Linked DNA regions of Homo sapiens: region 1 is linked to region 2. Evidence: fine-mapped expression QTL. A gene starts in region 2. The other region holds a variant in brackets. All regions are shown on one strand. Distances are from middle to middle.

Region 1 (4,401 bases), 40 kb after region 2:
CCTTTCCCTCTATATTCAGTTATATTTATGGCTCATTTTCCTTCCCTCTTTCCTGCACTTCTCTGGTGGACATAGCTTCCTTTCTTACCTGTTTCCCTTCAAGAGGCTGTTCTCTATTTATGCTTACTGGCCATCATTCTTCTCTGCTTTCTTGGAGGGCCTGGTAATGCCCTCTCCATAATCTCCTGGAATGAGAGCTTCAGGTTGGTGTTAATCTTTTTCCCTCTCACAGCCACATACTGTATAGTTTCTTACTGGTGGGGTCCCCTTGGTTTGTACAACAGGCTTAGAGAGTTGATACTGGCAAGAGAGGTCAAGCCCAGCCATTTAACTCATGGTCTACATAGAAAATCATGGATCATGGTCCATATTTAACAGTGAATTACAGGCTGTCTCACTGCCTTTTCTCATACACCACATTCCTCTTGCCCTTTCTTCACACTCAGCATCAGCTGAGTAGCCTGGAAAGTAGCCTGGAAACTTTTAAATAAATTATCAGCAGTTGACAACTTAGCGGCAGGCAGGACTATTCCAGCAATCATTGAGAATAATTCTACTGGGCCCTTCCTCTACTTTGGCAAGAAGAAGTATGCCATCAGCCCTACTCCATGGGAAAGCAATTGCCTTCATTTTCAACTTTCCCATATCAAGTCTTTCTTTTGTATTGATTAAGGTGGTTGTGTTGGTGGTCTTTATGGTTACATTAGAAGAGTGTCTCTCTGTAAGTCCTAGAAGGAATATACTGGCTCTAATTACTGGTGTCTCTTTGAACTTAGAACATCAAGTATTTAGATGCCAGTTCTAGTTCTCACCTTACCATGTAAAAACAGAATTATCATTAAAAGATAGTTTAAGTGTGTTTAGTTTATAGGACCAGGGGAATAAACAAGGTGCACTCTTACTACAAAATATACTAAACATCATCAATATTTGTTGTCTGGTTGATTAAGTGTTTTTTGAAAAATACCCCAAAACAATAACTGAAAATTGTAGAAAGCATCTTAACCTAGTCACACATATGATTTATTTTCAGAGTTACCGTCATTAAGTCCATCTGCTGAAAATCCTCCCTCTCTCCAAAACAACTGCCTTGCATATATCCTCTTCTACTTGGGCTAAAATTGTCACTATTATGGGTTGGGGAGGGAGGTTGGAAGAGAAGAGGAAGAGAACAAGAATAATGGAGTAGTTGGGAAGACAGGGCATCCAAAAAAAAACTTTACTTACTTCACATTTTACCAGGGCCCAGCAATATTGCTCACATGATAATCAGTAGGAATTTTGTTTCCTTTTCAAATTGATTAATGAGTACTTATTAACTCACAGGCAATTAAAGGGCCAGTGGGCACAAATTCTCCGTATTTTCAGTAAATGCCGTTATTGCCTAACACTAAATAATATAGAGACTACTATTTTTAATCTTTACCACTAATTAGAAGACAATGGCACAACTTCAAATCAATCAATTCTTCACAGCTAAAAATGGAAGTACTTGTTAGAGTAAAAGCCGATGAAGGAGAGAGAGAGTGCCAGAAAGAGAGAGAGAGATTTTCTTTTGTTGTTCCTGTTTATGAACTTCTAAAAGTTAGAAATATTTCACCTAAATCTTTTTATTTTAACTCAAAATGTTATTCTATTGGGGTTATTTATCTAGATTCCAACAAACACTGTCAATTTTTTCTTATGGATTTTGTTTGAGACGTACATCACAGGTAGATATGTTTTTAAGTCGATCAATTTGACATATTAGCTTAAAATACAGCCTGTCCCTTAAGACTCAATGTCTTTGAAAATAGGAAGCTTGAGGTTGAAATCACTTAAGGCTGAGTTAGAAAAATGGCCTATATTAAAGTCAGTAAGCTTGTTTTTCTTTTGATCATGTGTAAACAGAAAATCATGTCTCACAGGTGAAATTGTGTATTATCAACCTGCCTTTCCATTGTTCTTACATTCTGAAATGAAAGCCACTAATGATGATTCTTTATTTAGAGCTATGTGTTCGTTTTACTAGACTGTCTTTAAAATAATATATAATTGGATTCAGTAGATTCAGTAAAACATGAAAAAATACATGCTAGACAAATCTATAGTAGCTGCAGAAATCTATAGCAAATACAAAAATCTAGAGTAAATTGACACTGGAAGGACAAGAGCTAAAGGGTCTGTTGACTGTAAATTTTGATATGTGCACAATGCCTACCTCCAGAAATAATAGCCAAACAGCATAATGAAACATAAGCTTCAAATGGGCCAAGTGAACAAGCATTTGACTTTTCTTGAAAATGATATAGGCTCAGTTATCTGTTTAAT[C/T]ACCATTAATTTTGCATTTAACTGCCAACTGCCTTGTTTTCTATTTAAGTTTAAACATACATAAAGCTTTTCTTTTCCATTATATTTCTTTTCAATTTCTACAGTGATCATTTTGCATCACAAAAGGAATTTAAAGAGTAATGCAAGGTACGCCTCCTAAGCCACAAGGTCAGTCTCTTCTGGTGGTGTTCTGTTTATTTGTGTCTTACCTTGAATTCCATGTCGTCTTGGACACTTTTCTCCTTCTGTAAACTTATGATGTCTCATTACAACTTTGCTGAACTTGTGGCACTTAGACATGACTTCTTTCCTAGCTTTAGTTCAATTGTTCACCCCATGACTTGGAGTAACAAGTAACAAATTAGTAGCTTATTTAATAGGGATAAAGACTGATAGTCTCACTCATGCTCTTTTTACTGGGAGTCAGTAGGCAGGAAGCTAAAATTAGCTCAGTTTTGTCAAATTGATTTGAGTTCATCCATGGTAAAATGAAATCTAATATTTTCCTTCCTCCTACATGGTTAGAAATTTTGGTTCTCAGCAGGTGTTGAATTTAAATAGTAAGAACAAATGGAAGCCACAGCTATGGCTCTGAGAACAATTATATAGGTCCTTGAAAATCCATTTCCAATCTATATTAAAAAAGAAATGTTATTTTGCAGCAATGAGGAATTAAAGTCTGCTGAAATTATTTTTTTTTCTGCTTCAAGAAATCAGTCCAGAAATCCCAAACTTTTGTAAGTCATGGTCTTCTTTGAAACCACATTTCCCTTATGTTTCACATTGTCATTGCATGAATTCTGTTACTTTGATGTCCTCAATAATTTATTACTTTTTGCATTTTTCTTATGACACAGACCACAGAGCTATAAGAAACTGACCATTGCATTTCACGTGACTTGGGCTTAAAATATGATAAAGGAAAAGAGTAAAAGTTGTCATGGTATCTTATATTAAAAAAGGTATTCTATGTAACAAAGCTTATTAAATTCAATGAGCTTCTCTGTAAAATAATGACCTTTTTATCAAATTTTATATAATGAATATTTTTCTGCAATGAAATTCTACTTGTTTCTCTCTTATAATCACTATCACTAAGCAACAGACTTATTTGCTGCTTGCAATAATGAGATACAGATGAATTCATTATAATTGTTTCATCCCACCATCCAACAACAGTTACAAATAAACTCTCCTAAAGTTTTTGCTCTTTAATTACCAAAAAAAGTTCAGCCAGAAAAAAGACTCAAATACCTAAAGTTTGATTTCACTGACCCCGAACAATTACAGTAACTAAAACTAAAAATGGCAGATACTACGCAACATCTTCCACTTTTCCTGGCAGAAAACCTTCTTTTCCTCACAAGCTAATTCAAAGTATGAATCCTATAAGATTCTTTTCATCTTTACCACTTGCTGATGGCAAACTGAATTTTAAGTAAGACTCCCTTATGAAGCAATTGTGATGCCTCATGCAGTTTGTTATACTTTTGAACTATAGCAACCTGGTAACATAGGTGAAAGCCCATAATGATTGTGAGCATGTGTGTGTGTGTGTGCGATTTTATGATGCATGGGTTTTTATTGTTCCTATCTTTGTGTCACTGTGTACCCAAAGATACTGTCACTGTTCTTCTCCCCACCAGAAGTCAGAAGCATAACACCTCTTTGTAATCTTAAAAACAGTCATACTTTCTATAAATATTCAAAATACAATCGCTTACCTGGATTAATAGAAAATATTTTAAAAGACTCCAAAATTGGAAACTAGGTCAGTCCCTATTCTCTTTCAAATTTTGGAAAATAAATGAGATTGGAAAAACACCAAGGCACACAGAAAAATTCATATTCTATCAAGGTCAAGCACAACCACCTACTTGGAGCTCAGCATGATGCTATCACTCCTGAGCCTTTTCCCCTACTTCTAATATTTTCCTTTTTTTTGAGATGGAGTCTAGATCTGTCACCCAGGCTACAGTGCAGTGGCATGATCTCAGCTGACTGCAACCTCTGCCTCCCGGGTTCAAGCAATTCTTGTGCCTCAGCCTCCTGAGTAGCTGGAATTACAGGCATGTGCCACCATGCTGACTA
Region 2 (4,401 bases):
ACTGAGCACCTCAGAAACTGGCCTTGTTGCCTTTTATCTTAGTTTTCAACATTTCTGCCTCTTCCACCCTCCCATCAATAACAACTCTCATTCCAAAACTTCTCAAGTGGAAGGAGAGCACAAGGGCCAAAGTGAAGTTTTAAAAAGTCCATTCTTCCTCTCTTCAGGTTCGGTATCCCCATAAGTAGGTCTTCCACAACTTCCCATATCGAACCTTACTGCTCTGATTCCCCAGGATAAAAAGATATGACTAATTGTTTCAGATATTAAAGACTGAAGGGTGTGCATCCAGAATCAGAACTGAGTCTGACAATTTATTTTGAAATATGCCAACATTTCAAATATGGTTTTAAGCAGTATTTACCAAACTGTGTTCTGTGGAACACTGGTGTCCAACAAAATACTAACCAATTACTCTAACAAAAGGTTTTGAATATCAGACAAGCTTGGGAAATGCAGAGTACCTTACTGTCCTCTTAGAACTCCATTAAGTACACATGTATGTTAGGTGAGAGGTCTCACAGCTCTATTTTAGTTTCCAACTCTGGGATACTAAGCTAAGTTATTCAATGTGCTTAGGTTTGCATACTTCATTGCAAATTAATGAATGGTCTGCCTGGATAATCCTCAAAATAACATTCAACTATAAAATTCAAAGACTCATTTATTTATTAGAAAAATAATGTTCTATGAGAGCATATGGACACAGGGAGGGGCACATCACACACTGGGGCCTGTGGGGGTTTGGGGGTTAGGGGAGGGATAACATTAGGAGAAATACCTAATGTAGGTGATGGGTTGATGGGTGCAGCAAACCACCGTGGCACATGTATACCTATGTAAAAAAACTGCACGTTCTGCACATGTAACCCAGAACTTAAAGTATAATAAAAAAAAAATTTAAAAAAGGAAAATAATCTTCTTAGAAAGATATGTAAGAATCCCAGTTTCACTTATTCACTTATAATACATAATTATATATAATGCATATATATAGAATACATAGGCATCTGTATCATAAGCATACAGGTAAATGCTTACGTATTCATACTTACAGCATATGTCCTTACAGCTCTTACGCTTCAGCAAGAATTTTCCAACATTGCTTTTTTAGCAAACTTTTTTTATTATAAAGCAACATATGCACATTACAGGTTATTTAGTGTAACTGACTCTACCAATCTTCTCTCCTCCCCTCCAATACTTCTAAGTCTTTGTTTGTTGTGCTTTACTTTAATCGTTAAACTTTTGGCAAGCGATGTAAATTTGAATTATTCACTTCCTGGGGTACTTTTAATTCTTAAAATAAGACACAATGGTTAAAGCTTAATCATTTATGTTACAGAGGACATTTACTGAACAACAATAATTATTGTGACATTATGGTCTAGTCTCCTAAAAATGACATTGAAGGAAAGGGAACCGGAATATTCCAGACACTACAGTAGGTCTGAAATCTCATATCAAGTCCTTAATAGGTCAAAACTTACAGCCAGTATCAATTACCTAAGGGACTTAACGAAAACGTTTATGAAATCTTCAATTGGATTACAAAAGCAAGCACATCGTTGCACTGTATCTAAGACACTCTACAGGGCAAAATCTCATGAAACAAGTATTTAAGTAGTCTAACTTTTTAATGTTGCTAGTGTGTTCCCTTCTGCCTCAGTTTATAGATTGAGTATGGAAATATTTAAGCAGGTTTGTTTTTGGTTTGTCAGTCACAGGACTTATTTAGACACTTAAATTTATGATTTGGTTACTACAGACATCAAACTCCTTTTGGAATACGGAGTATAGGGTAAGGTCACTCTAAAGCAATGATGAGAGTCCGAAGCAACAGCAACTGGATCTAGCATAAGACTAGTACAATTCGGTCTCTACCACGAAGAGAGATCTCTGTACTTGAGTGCCCAAAGGCAGAAACACACACATGCCATAAGCAATCCACATCTGTGAAGATGAGGGAGGGGTGGACTTCTTGGGATGGGCGGAAACACTTACAACTAGGGAGGAAGCCAGGCTGCGGCGGACCCAGCTGACCAAAGGAACTACAGAAGAGGACGAAGAAAGCGAGGGGGAAAGGGCGAGGGTTATTAACTGAGTTGATGGAATAAGGTAGTGGCTCCAAACTTCACGGCTCATTAGAGCTTGAAAAAAAAAAATCAGACGCCGGGTCGCACAGAAGTAATTAAACCAATCCCTCTGGCGGTGGGGCCCAGGCGTCGGTACTTTTTTTAATTTCCCACTTGAATCCAATGGGAATCCAAGTTTAAGGGCTAGAAGACCAGAGAGCGACAGACAGGGAGGAGGCGCGCCAGCCAGGGGCCGAGGCACATGCGGGCCGGCAACAGCGAAGGCTCCGCCTCTTCCTGTGGCTCGGAGGAGCCGCGGAACCCCCAACGCGCGACTCAGACGGAGACACCCACTCTTTCGGCGCTAGCGGCGGCTGGAAGGGACGAGAGCCTGGCCTAGGAGGAAGGAGGCGGCTCCAGGACCGCATTACCTGATCAGAGCCGCGACCCTCATGCTGGGCGCAGTGCGCGTGCGTGCGGCGAGCGCGGGCGGGAGCCAGGAGGTCGCGCCGCAGCTCGCGTGACGCACCGCGGGGCCTCGCCCGGGTGTTCGCTCCGCCGCCTGTCCGCGGATCGGCGCTGCGAGCCCCGCGGCTGCCTGCGGGACACCTGAGCGCGGAGGGTGCGGCACCTTGGCACCTTGACCCTGTGGCAGGGACATCTCGGCCCAGGAAAGAATGAGGTTTAGGCACGGCCTAACCACCTAAGTGAGGGCACTGAAGCTGCCGGGGGAAGGGCAAGGTCCGCGTTGCAGAGCCCAAGCCCAGTGGCGCAGGATTTGTTTTGGTAAGAGGGGATTTAGCGTCCCAATTGCTGCAAATTGACACAGTTGCGGACGTGCAAGCGCAGAAGAAATTTGTCCTTCCTCACCCCACAGAACAGAAACAACTGTACACTTCTGCTTTTTAACTTACATCTCCTCTGTCCTCCAAACCTGTGTGTCCAGATGTGAAACTCAGATCCCCAGGGGCTGTGGTAATTTTTAAATCTGGGGCTAGCCCCCCCCACCTCTAGGCCCTCTGTGGCTTTGGCTCTTGGTCAAGCTTGTGTATTTGACAAGGCCAGGCCAGGCTCTTCACCAAAGAGCAATGGCCTTGCAGAAAGAAAATCTAGCTTCTAAGTTTATTTGCCAAGTATGTATTGAGTGCCTTTCGTGTACCAGGCACTGTTTTAGACTCTGTGGATACAACCGTAAATAAAACAAAAACCCGGCATTCCGGGCATAGAGCTTAAATGGGGATGGAGAGAACAGACAATACATATCTTAAAGGTAAATAGTCTGTTGAAGAGTGAAAAGTGCTATTGGAAAGGGGCGGGGTGCGGTGGGGGAGAGTCAGGAGAGAGGTGGAGAGGCAAATTGCAGAATTAAATCGTGTCTATGTAGGCCTTATTGGTAAGATGAGAGTTGAGCCAATTTAAATAAGGAGAGTTCGCTATGTGTATGATTGGGGTGTGCTCCAGACAAGAAAAAAAAATCGAAGGCTCTAGGTGCGTTGTGTGTTTGTGGAAGATTAAGGCAGATCCGTGTTGCTGGAGCAGATTGAGCAAAGCAGAGAGTAGTGGAGAGCAGGTTAAGGTGATGGAGGGGAAGGATTATATAGGGTCTTGTAGGTAATTGCAGACTTTTGAAGGGTGTGACTTAAAATTTTAAAAGGATTGCAGTGTTGAGAATCCACCTATTAGGAAGCTGTTACAGTGTTCCAGTAGAGAGATGGCGGAGCCTAGAATCAACATGGTGAATTTGGTGAGAAGTAAGAGGATTCCAGCTCTATTTTGAAGATAGAGCCAATAGAATCAAATTCGATATGGGATACAAGAGAAAGAAAGTCATGAGGGATGATGCCAAAGGCATGAATTAAGTAAGTTAATATATGTAGGGAACTTAAAATTATGCCAGGTACATAGTAAGCATTCAATTTTATTTTGACATTCTCAACTCTAATAGTAGGGGTGACTAGAGCAGTGACAGTCTACATATCAGTTTTAGCGTCTAGAATCATACAGCTTTAAGATTTTGCAGTTATGAATATTTACCAAATGAGTCAAGTATTTAAGAAGTTTGCAGTCTAATTGGAGGAGATAAATACGTGAAACACACTTAAAATGATACAGCTCCAATGAGTGGAAGAAGCACCAGGGCTCTCGTCTCATGCCGAATTGGGTAAAATGACACAGACACACATGGAGTGGTTTTAAGGGGTGGAGAATTTAATAGGCAAGAAAGAAGGGTGAAGAAAGGAAGAAGCTCCCCTGTAGAGACACATGGAAGTGGGCTCCAAAGCCTAGAGAGGAAACCCCCAGTGCTGGGGTTAACAGGCAGTTATAT

Direction of the effects. Alleles are on the strand shown, and positions count from the first base shown. SD is a standard deviation of normalised expression in the study named.
For the expression in monocytes after LPS of the gene that starts at base 2,553 in region 2, C is the low allele of the variant in region 1 and T is the other (large effect, 1.1 SD a copy in Fairfax 2014).

Evidence for each region. PIP is the estimated chance that this variant, and not a neighbour inherited with it, causes the effect. A credible set is the group of variants that fine-mapping cannot tell apart.
Region 1: its variant is the best candidate, but not a certain one, in a credible set for the expression of DPH6 in monocytes after LPS (Fairfax 2014, PIP 0.53).

What each region holds. Positions count from the first base shown.
Region 1 is chr15:35,583,860-35,588,260 of GRCh38, forward strand. The region is part of intron 1 of DPH6-DT (DPH6 divergent transcript); the gene reads left to right. Among named protein-coding and RNA genes, the nearest start is that of DPH6-DT, 40 kb to the left of the region's middle. The variant C/T (reference allele first, on the strand shown) is at 2,311.
Region 2 is chr15:35,543,613-35,548,013 of GRCh38, forward strand. It overlaps DPH6 (diphthamine biosynthesis 6), which reads right to left and starts at 2,553. Exons shown (of 9, transcript NM_080650.4): 1 at 2,507-2,553. The coding sequence starts at 2,529. DPH6-DT (DPH6 divergent transcript) reads left to right here and starts at 2,583. Exons shown (of 3, transcript NR_038251.1): 1 at 2,583-2,861. RefSeq lists an enhancer at 1,554-2,488 and silencers at 2,536-2,675, 2,976-3,025.